2 separate regions of the Homo sapiens genome follow, and region 2 is linked to region 1. Evidence: fine-mapped expression QTL. Tissue or cell type: pancreatic islets. Region 1 holds a variant in brackets; the other region holds the start of a gene. All regions are shown on one strand. Distances are between the middles of the regions.

Evidence for each region. PIP is the estimated chance that this variant, and not a neighbour inherited with it, causes the effect.
Region 2: it holds the start of NAGPA, and the variant in region 1 is fine-mapped to the expression of NAGPA in pancreatic islets (PISA, PIP 0.95).

Annotation. Positions count from the first base shown.
Region 1 is chr16:4,774,671-4,779,816 of GRCh38, reverse strand. SEPTIN12 (septin 12) reads left to right here. Exons shown (of 10, transcript NM_144605.5): 8 at 31-127; 9 at 1,680-1,731; 10 at 1,819-2,211. The coding sequence ends at 2,020. Among named protein-coding and RNA genes, the nearest start is that of ZNF500, 10 kb to the right of the region's middle. The variant T/G (reference allele first, on the strand shown) is at 2,528.
Region 2 is chr16:5,031,859-5,037,004 of GRCh38, reverse strand. It overlaps NAGPA (N-acetylglucosamine-1-phosphodiester alpha-N-acetylglucosaminidase), which reads left to right and starts at 3,070. Exons shown (of 10, transcript NM_016256.4): 1 at 3,070-3,176; 2 at 3,277-3,732; 3 at 5,121-5,146. The coding sequence starts at 3,091. It overlaps NAGPA-AS1 (NAGPA antisense RNA 1), which reads right to left and starts at 3,303. Exons shown (of 2, transcript NR_038913.1): 1 at 2,944-3,303. RefSeq lists enhancers at 2,959-3,138, 3,332-3,833.

The DNA.
Region 1 (5,146 bases):
CTCCCATCTCTGTGTCTTCTCCTTTCCCAGGACCGAATCCCTTTTGCCGTGGTAGGGGCTGACCAAGAGCACCTGGTGAACGGGAGGTGTGTCCTGGGCCGGAAGACCAAGTGGGGCATCATTGAAGGTCAGTGCGGGGCCCCTGGGTAGGATGCAGGTGGGGTCAGTTTGGAAACCAGAGCAGCCTTGGGCAACCTTCGCACCCATCACAGGGCACAGAAAGGTGAAGCCCACTAGACAAAGAGCCCTGGGGAATGGTCCCTCTTTCCAGCTGGGAGGCTGTGGCAAGTTTCCGGACCCTCTGGGCCTCAGTTTCCTCACAGTAAAGTGGGCATCACAGTGCATCAACTTCCTAGGGTGTTGGAGCGGGGAGAACCACCATTTTGCACAATGCCCAATACCCAAGGCTGCCCTAGTGGCTGGCCGGAAATTACGATGGGCCTACTGTGTATCAGGCACCGCTATGTGCAGTTACTGCAGTGCACGGTAAAGGGAGGACTGACAGGGTCCCTGTCCCCATAGAGCTGACAGGACAAGGACAGGTCGGGGAGGCACAGTGAAGGCGATTGTGGCGGGAGGGAGAGGAGACTGCCTTAGGGAGCTAGGGAAAGTGACACAGGAGGGGCAGCGAGGATGTAGCCCCTGATGTATTATTATTATTTTTTATTTTTATTTTTTTGAGATGGAGTCTCGCAGTGTCACCCGAGCTGGAGTGCGGTGGCGTGATCTCGGCTCACTGCAACCTCCGCCTCCTGGGTTCAAGTGATTCTCCTGTCTCAGCCTCCCAAAGAGCTGGGATTACAGGCACCTGCCACCACGCCCAGCTAATTTTTTGTATGTTTATGAGAGACGGGGTTTCACTATGTTGCCAGGCTGGTCTCAAACTCCTGACCTCGTGATCTGCCCGCCTCGGCCTCCCAAAGTGCTGGGATTACAGGCGTGTGCCACCGCGCCCGGTCAGGTGATGTATTATTATAATTATTAGAAATATTCTATACTATATATATATATTTTTTTGAGACAGAGTCTTGCTTTGTCACTCAGGCTGGAGTGCAGTGGAGCGATCTTGGCTCACTGCAACTTCCGCCTCTCAGGTTCAAGCGATTCTCCTGCCTCAGCCTCCCAAATAGCTGGGACTACAGATTATACCACCACACCCGGCTAATTTTTGTATTTTTAGTAGAGACGGGGCTTCACTATGTCGTCCAGGCTGGTCTCAAACTCCTGACCTCAGGTGATCCACCCAACTCAGCCTCCCAAACTGCTGGGATTATAGGCGTGAGCCACCGCGCCCAGCCAGAAATATACTATACTATTGCCTATGATATAGCACCCATGCTATCCGCAGAGGGTGGTTCCAGGACCCCCAGGGATACCAAAATCGGCAGATGCTCAAGTCCTACAGTGGGCACCCATGGATACAGAGGCCGAGTGTACATATAATACAATAATGATTGGTGGATTCATTCATTCTACAGCTATTTGTAGGAGCCGCCTGTACCAGGCACTGGGAACACAACAGTGGGTGAATGAATGAATGAACCAACAAAGGGAAGGCAGGATAGGGTAAAGAGAAATGTGGGAAAAGGGCTAAGGGAAATGGTGTCAGGTGGTGCATACAGTAGGCACTTACTCAGTGCTCACTAAGCAGCGCCCATACTGAGTCCCATGTCTTGCAGTGGAGAACATGGCGCACTGTGAATTTCCTCTCCTGAGAGACCTGCTTATCCGGTGAGGGTGTGGGGAGCCTGGGGCTAGGGGGCTGGCGAGGGGCCCTGGGGACACCACCATCGGGGCTGACCGTCTCCGGTCCCCCAGCTCCCACCTCCAAGACCTGAAGGACATAACCCACAACATCCACTATGAGAACTACCGCGTCATCAGACTCAATGAAAGCCACCTGCTGCCCCGCGGGCCCGGCTGGGTGAACCTGGCCCCGGCCTCCCCAGGACAGCTGACCACCCCCCGGACCTTCAAGGTCTGCAGGGGGGCCCATGACGATTCTGATGATGAGTTCTGACCACCGGCGGATCCCGGGGCTGCTGGGCTTCCTGAGTCCCCAGCGGCTCTCAACACACACCTATGTACCAGAGCATCTATTAAATGTGAGCCTTGCTTTTTATGAAAAGCTGTGCTTTGAAAACAAAAGGCATTTTGTAAATGACTTCTTTGAGCTATCCACAAATAAAAAGGCTGGGTGTCACTCTGTTACCCAGGCTGGAGTACAGTGGCGCAATCATGACTCACTGCAGCCTCAAATTTCTGGGCTCAAGTGATCCTCCTGCCTCAGCCTCTCAAGTAGCCAAGACTATGGGCATGACACCACCTTGATGGGCTGATTTTTACCATTTTTTTTTGTAGAGATAAGGCCTCACTAGGTTGCTCAGGCTGGTCTTTAGCTGACCTCAGGTGATCCTTCCGCCTCAGCCTTCCAAAACACTGGGATTACCACTGCTGCCAACCAAGTATGTTTTTGTGGTGGTTGTTGGTTGTTGTTTCTGAGATGGAGTTTTCTGGGGTTTTTTTT[T/G]TTTTGTTTTGTCTTGTTTTTTGAGATGGAGTTTCGCTCTTGTTGCCCAGGCTGGAGTGCGATGGCGTGATCTCGGCTCGCTACAACCTCTGCCTCCCGGGTTCAAGTCATTCTCCTGCCTCAGCATCCCAGGTAGCTGGGGACTACAGGCATACACCATCATGCCTGGCTAATTTTTGTATTTTTAGTAGAGATGGGGTTTCACCATGCTGGCCAGGCTGGTCTTGAACTGACCTCAAGTGATCCACCGGCCTCGGCCTCCCAAAGTGCTGGGATTACAGGCATGAGCCACTGCACTCAGCCTCTGAGATGGAGTTTCACTCTGTCGCACTGGCTGAAATGCAGTGGCATGATCTGGGCTCATTGCAACCTCTGCTTCCCGGGTTTAAGAAATTCTCCTGCCTCAGCCTCCCGCGTAGCTGGGATTACAGGTGCCCACCACCACGCCCAGCTAATTTTGTGTTTTTAGTGGAGACGGGGTTTCACCACGTTGGCCAGGCTAGTCTCAAATTCCTGACCTCAAGTGATCCATCTGCCTCAGCCTCCCAAAGTGCTGGGATTACAGGCATGAGCCACAGCACCCAGGTTTCTTTTTGAATAATGTGAGACCCAAGGCCCTAGGAATCTTGAAGGCCTGGGAAGGCATGCCTTGGACAACCAGCCCCCTCTGCCCCAGAGCCAGACCCAAGTGACAAAATCAGCTCTCCCATCTGTCCCAGCCCCTTACTCCTGGCCCGGGGCTAGGCCCACAGGCCAAGAACACTTTCAAAATCCCCATCTTTGTGGCCTGATCTCTGGCTGTCTTACCTGATCTCTGTGTTCCACCATCCCCCACCTTCCTCATTCCCCTGCCCCAGGGGCCAGCATGGCCAGCAAACAGCTCCCACTGTGGAGCCTGGCAATGCCAGTGTGAAAATCCCAGCAGGCAAGTCAGTTACTTATGCTCCCCTTGCCTCACTTTCCTCATCTGTAAAATGGGGATCATGGTACCAAGCACATAGCACTGTTGTTCAGACAAAATAAAATACTCCCTAGGATGTGCCGACCACAACCTGGAGAAATGGCATGAAGACAGAGGCTACATGATCAAGATGGAGCAGCAGTCCAGGGTGGAGGACCTGCTGCAGAATGTGTGAGCTCCACAGCCCAGGGACTCTCCAGAAAGCTAGAAAATAGGCCGGGCACGGTGCTCACGCCTGAAATCCCAGCACTTTGGGAGGCCGAGGCGGGCAGATCACCTGAGGTTAGGAGTTCGAGACCATCCCGGCTAAAACGGTGAAACCCCATCTCTACTAAAAATACAAAAAATTAGCCGGGCGTAGTGGCGGGCGCCTGTAGTCCCAGCTACTTGGGAGGCTGAGGCAGGAGAATGGCATGAACCCGGGAGGCGGAGCTTGCAGTGAGCCGAGATCCCGCCACTGCATTCCAGCCTGGGCGACAGAGCGAGACTCCATCTCAAAAAAAAAAAAAAAAAAAAAAAAAAATTAGCCGGGCATGGTGGTACGCACCTGTAATCCCAGCTACTCAGGAGGCCGAGGCAGAAGAATCACTTGAACCCAGCAGGTAGAGGTTGCAGTGAGCCGAGATCACACCGTTGCACTTCAGCCTGGGCAACAGAGCGAGACTCCATCTCAAAAACAAAACAAAACAAAACAAAAAAGCTAGAAAATAAATGGATTTCACAGAATCCCACACCATGGGGGCCAAAGCTACATTAGTCATTAGTTTGGTAATAAAAGAAAGGGCTACCCCTCTAATCTAGGAAGCTGGGTGCAAGGTGAGCCTTCAACAAATGACAACAATGAGTAGCAGTTTTGTTCCAACTAAAAGTCACCTTCTCCCTGAAGCCCTCCTTGCCTTCCCCAGGCAACCCACTCACTGCCCCCTCTGAGTGTGTGTCACCTAGTTTGTTTCCTGGTCAGTCTCCCCCATTAGGCTGGAAACATAGTGAGGGCAGAGATATGTCAGTTTCATCCCTGCATCCAGTGCATGGCAGGTGGTAAGAACAGGGCTGCTGACTGAACAGAACGGACCCTGCATTGCCTGCCCTACAGCGATCTGCTGGTTGAATTCACAAACCAGCTTCTCCACCCACACCGCAGGCTGACTCCAGGACTGGGGAGCTTCCAGAGCCCGTGGGCACTCAAACCACCCACGACCAACATCTGAGTTGGCTGAGACACTGGCCCACGTCACAGCACATCCCAAGGTTTAAGATTAGCCCTGGGCCCGTCCGGGAGGGAGGTGGGGGTGTCAGCCCCCCGCCCGGCCAGCCGCCCCGTCCGGGAGGGAGGTGGGGGGGTCAGCCCCCCGCCCGGCCAGCCGCCCCGTCCGGGAGGTGAGGGGCGCCTCTGCCCGGCCGCCCCTACTGGGAAGTGAGGAGCCCCTCTGCCTGGCCACCACCCCGTCTGGGAGGTGTACCCAACAGCTCATTGAGAATGGGCCATGATGACAATGGCGGTTTTGTGGAATAGAAAGGGGGGGAAGGTGGGGAAAAGATTGAGAAATCGGATGGTTGCCGTGTCTGTGTAGAAAGGGGTAGACATGGGAGACTTTTCATTTTGTTCTGTACTAAGAAAAATTCTTCTGCCTTGGGATCCTGTTGATCTGTGACCTTAC
Region 2 (5,146 bases), 260 kb before region 1:
CTCCCAAGCTGTTTCCCACTTCAGGCTCTGGCCCAGATCTGCACACAGCCGCATCTTTTCTTTCCTTCAATCACAGTCTAAAGGGGCTTGGAGAGGCTTCCCTGCCACACCTGCAACATCCTTCTCTCGCAGTCCTGCCCTTTGCTTCTTGCATTCATCACATAACTGTTTCATGTCTGTTTCCCCTTGAAAAGCTAAGCTCCATGAAGGCAGGGATCAGCTGCAACGGAGCACATACGAGGTGCTCAGCCTGTTGAACACACAAATGATGGTAGAACTCAAATGAGGATGCTAAGAGGGGACAAAAGTATTCCAGGCTGAAGAGCAAAAAAGAAAACCCTTGGCTTCTTAGCAGCTTTGGCTAGAACTGTGGATATGGGCTGCTCTGTTCAAATGCAGAATTTCTGTGGCACCCGTTATGTGCTTAGAAAAACTTGGCAAAGGAGTAGCAAACCTCAAAGTAGGGAGAAAACCAAAGTCAGAACTTGCCAAAGACTGCCTGTTCCTGCAACTCCTAACTGAGGCAGAAAAAAAGAGCGCTTCCGGAGGCAGGGAGTAGGCGTCAGGCCTGGGCTCCTCTGCTGGTTATTTTTAGCAGCCCAATGCAAAGCTCAGAAAGATATACTCCCTTCACATCAATATATTGGTCATTTAAGCCTCTAGGAGGAGCAGTCATTTTGTACATGGTTAAAGTGAACTAGGAGCGTCAGAGCTGTTCCCGGGACCCCTTTGAGGTCCCTGAATTGTATTAGTTTCCAAAAGCAAGGCATCAGCATGGCCATGTTCTCTGTCAAAGCTCAAGAGTCTCTCCCACGCCTCTCTCCTAGCTCTTGGTGGCTGCTAGCCTTCTTTGCATTCTTTGACTTATGACTGCATCAGTCCAATCTCTGCCTGTGTTCATATGAGCTTCTTTCCTCTGTGTGTATTTGTGTCTTTTACAAGAACACCAGTCAGATTGGATTCAGGGCCCACCCTACTCCAGAATGACCTCATCTTAACTAATTACATCTGCAAAGACCCAATTTCCAAACAAGTTCACATTCTGAGGTTCTGGTAAGGACATGAGTTTGGGGGGACACTCTCTAACTGAGTTCACTAACCCTCACCGTGGACTGGCTCAAAGGAGCAGTGGCTCAAAGAGGGGCCTGAGATCAAGCACCAGAAGTGCTGACTGTGGATGAAAAGGGGCTGGCCTGGCCCCTATCTGTGTCCCCCCATACCTGTGGTAGTGAGGGAGAAGGAAAAGAAAAATCCGTTGGGGAAAATTCTGACCTCAGAAGTGGCCTGCCTGAAAAGTCATAGAAACTGGCAAAAATAAAGCAACCTGGGAAAAAACTCAGGCTGGACCTGCACGGAGATAAGCAGACAGGGTCCAGCGCAGAAGCCCTTTGTTCTTTGCATAATTAGCAGGCTCCCGGGAAAAAGTTTCCTCTCCTTTTCAGGCATATACACAGTGGGCTCCATGGAAACCGGCACAGGGAGGAGGGGGCCTTATCTAAAACAAACCCACAGTTACACAAACAAGAGAAGCAGCGATTTGCACTTGCCTAGAGACATACCCACAGCTGCATAACATAAGGGGAGCTGCACAGGCAGTTTTACTGGTAAGAAGTTACTCAGTTACCAGGAGGAGAGCAGTGTCCTATAAAAGTTTTTTGCGGCCAGGCACAGTGGCTCACGCCTGTAATCCCAGCACTTTGGGAGGCGGAAGGAGGCGGATCACCTGAGGTCAGGAGTTTGAAACCAGCCTGGCCAACATGGTAAAATTTCGTCTCTACCCAAAATACAAAAATTAGCAGGGCGCAGTGACGTGTGCCTGTAATCCCAGCTACTCGGGAGGCTGAGGCAGGAGAATCATTTGAACCCAGGAGGCAGAGGTTGTTGAGGTTGCAGTGAGCCAAGATCGCACCATTGCACTCCAGCCTGGGTGACAAGAGCAAAACTCTGTCTTAAAAAAAAAAAAAAAAAAAGCTTTTTGCATTCAGCTGTAACCCGACAATCCACTCGGACTCCCGTCTCCACTTTGGAGAGCTTTCTTCTTTCCCTTATTAAACGTTCGCTCCAACCCCACCCTTGTGTCCACGCTCCTTAGTTTTCTTGGAGGTAGGACAAAGAACCCCGGGACTAGTTCAGACAAGGAGAAACTGCTATATTAAGGTGCACTGGCAAGACCGCAACAGTATCAAGCCAATTAGACTTGCCGTGGCTCCTGGAATGGCCCACGCACTGCACTGGCACCAAGACACCACCCAACCCTGGACACTGCACTGGGACAGGAGGCCTGAAGAGAAGAATCCTCTCAAAGGAAGCTTGAAGTACATGCTACAAAATAAACTGGCTTCTATACTCAGGGCCAGCTTCATGGGCTCACTCAGAAGGTCCCTGGCTTGCTGCAACCATTTGCTCTGACCATCTTGAAATTCTTAATAGTTTTCTGGGTTTTTTAGTAAGTGTCCCCACGTTTTCATTTTGCATTGAGTCACACAAATCATGTAGCTGGGCTGTCTTCAAAAATGTCAAGGTAGTAAAAGACAAAAGGCTGAGGAGCCTTCCAGATGAAGAGATCAAAGAGACATGACAACTAAAAGCAACTCCTGGGTTACAGGGTCAGGGGCGGACAAAAAGGAAAAGAAAAAAAAAGACATTAGAGGGACAATTGAAGGTTAGCTGTGGATGACATCACAGAAATGTCAATGGGAGTTGTCCTAATGATATTTGCCCTGTGGTTAAGAAAATGCCCTTGTTCTTAGGAGATTCATGGCGAGGTATGGGGTAAAGGATCATGACATCTGCAATTTGGTTGCCATTGGTTCAGGAAAAAAAAAAAACAAAGTACAAATGATTGAGTAAATCAGGCAAGCCTAAACCACTGCTAAACATGAATAACAGTTCTACGAGAGTTCTTTATGCTCTCCTTGCAACTTCCTGTAGGTTTGAGATTACCTGGAGATAAAAAGTTAACATCACCAGCACCGCCCGCCAGCCCGCCAGCCGAAAAGAGCGCAGGTAATTCAGTCCGAGCTGAAAGCGGCCACCCTGGGACTTGAGTCACGTGAGGCGAGCCCACATGACCCGAGGCCCCGGTCCAATATGGCGACCTCCACGGGTCGCTGGCTTCTCCTCCGGCTTGCACTATTCGGCTTCCTCTGGGAAGCGTCCGGCGGCCTCGACTCGGGGTGAGTGCAGCTCCCTGGGCCAGCCTGGTTCGGGGGGTCCCCCCTGTCCTCCGAGCTCACGAGGACAGCCCCCTGAGCTCACGGCCGCCCGTCCCCGCAGGGCCTCCCGCGACGACGACTTGCTACTGCCCTATCCACGCGCGCGCGCGCGCCTCCCCCGGGACTGCACACGGGTGCGCGCCGGCAACCGCGAGCACGAGAGTTGGCCTCCGCCTCCCGCGACTCCCGGCGCCGGCGGTCTGGCCGTGCGCACCTTCGTGTCGCACTTCAGGGACCGCGCGGTGGCCGGCCACCTGACGCGGGCCGTTGAGCCCCTGCGCACCTTCTCGGTGCTGGAGCCCGGTGGACCCGGCGGCTGCGCGGCGAGACGACGCGCCACCGTGGAGGAGACGGCGCGGGCGGCCGACTGCCGTGTCGCCCAGAACGGCGGCTTCTTCCGCATGAACTCGGGCGAGTGCCTGGGGAACGTGGTGAGCGACGAGCGGCGGGTGAGCAGCTCCGGGGGGCTGCAGAACGCGCAGTTCGGGATCCGCCGCGACGGGACCCTGGTCACCGGGTGAGGAGGCAGGGAGCCCCGTGCTGTCGAGGGCAGAGGGCCTGAGATTTGGGTTGTAGCCGTGCCTCCGTGTTCAAGTCACTTAACCAAGCTGAGCCCCTGTTTCCTCCTCTGCAGAATGGGGATAGGAATCGCTTCCTTGCAGAGTTTATTCATCATCCAGTATCATTGAGCACTTGCTTGTATCAGGCAATGTGCCGCGCCCCGGTGAGATAGCCGTGAACAACACAGTCTTTGCCTTAACAGCCCTCCCCCATTACTAGAAAAATCAACAAAAGCCGGGTAAATAGCTAACATACATTCTGATTGCTGTGTGTGCAGCAAAGCAACCAACGGGGTGAACCCGTTGTAAATAGTGTTGATTTTAGGGAGGGTGATCTGGAACACGCCTCTCCGAGGTGACCTTTGAGTGGGAACTTGAAGATGAATCACTAAGTGAGCCAAGGTCAGAACTGGAGGAAGAGCGTTTCAGTCCAAAGGAACCCCACGCACAAAGGCTCAGAGGCTCAGGGGGGCTTGTGTGTATGAGGGACTGAAAAAGGAGTGGGGTGTCAGAAACATCAACTCATCAAGACTGATGATTTTTTTTTTTTTGAGACAGAGTCTTGCTCTGTTGCCCAGGATGGAGGGCAGTGGCATGATACCGGCTCACTGCAACCTCTGCCTCCCGGGTTCAAGCGATTCTCCTGCCTCAGCCTCTGGAGTAGCTGGGACTACGGACGTGTGCCACCACGCCCGGCTGATTTTTGTATTTTTAGTAGAGACGGGATGGGGTGGGGAACGGGGGAGTGGGTTCACCATATTGGCCTGGCCGGTCTCGAACTCCTGACCTCAAGTGATCCACCCACCTCAGCCTCCCAAAGTGCTGGGATGACAGGTGTGAGCCACCACGCCCTGGCAAGATTGATGATTTGAATTATTTAAAATTATCTTAAAAATTATTTGAGTCTCAAAAAAAAAGTATTTGTTGATGATAAAGCTTGTTCTGATCCTGAGTGGGACCAGGTGGGAGAGAGCAGTGGAGAAACAAGGAAGCCAATGAAGGGCCGTAACAGGGATCAAGTGGTAGTTGGGCTGGGTATGGCCTGGGGATTGAGGGCCATAGATGGATTTGAGCTCTGTTGGGGGATGGTCATTTCTGTTAAATGAAACAGACTGTTTGCAAAGGCTTGTGGGGATTGTATTGTCAGAACCCTGTCCAGCTTCAGCTCTGACAACAGGGAGATTCCTAGGGCTGTTAAGTTGTCCCAGCTACACTCAGGCCCCAGGAGGTTCCTGGGGCATGAGGGGGAATCTAGCAGCCAGGTTGGGATGGCTAGGGAGAAAGAGCCTGACTATCTGCAGTTGCCCCTGCTGGTGAGTGAGCTTCCCACCTTCCCCGGATCCAGGTACCTGTCTGAGGAGGAGGTGCTGG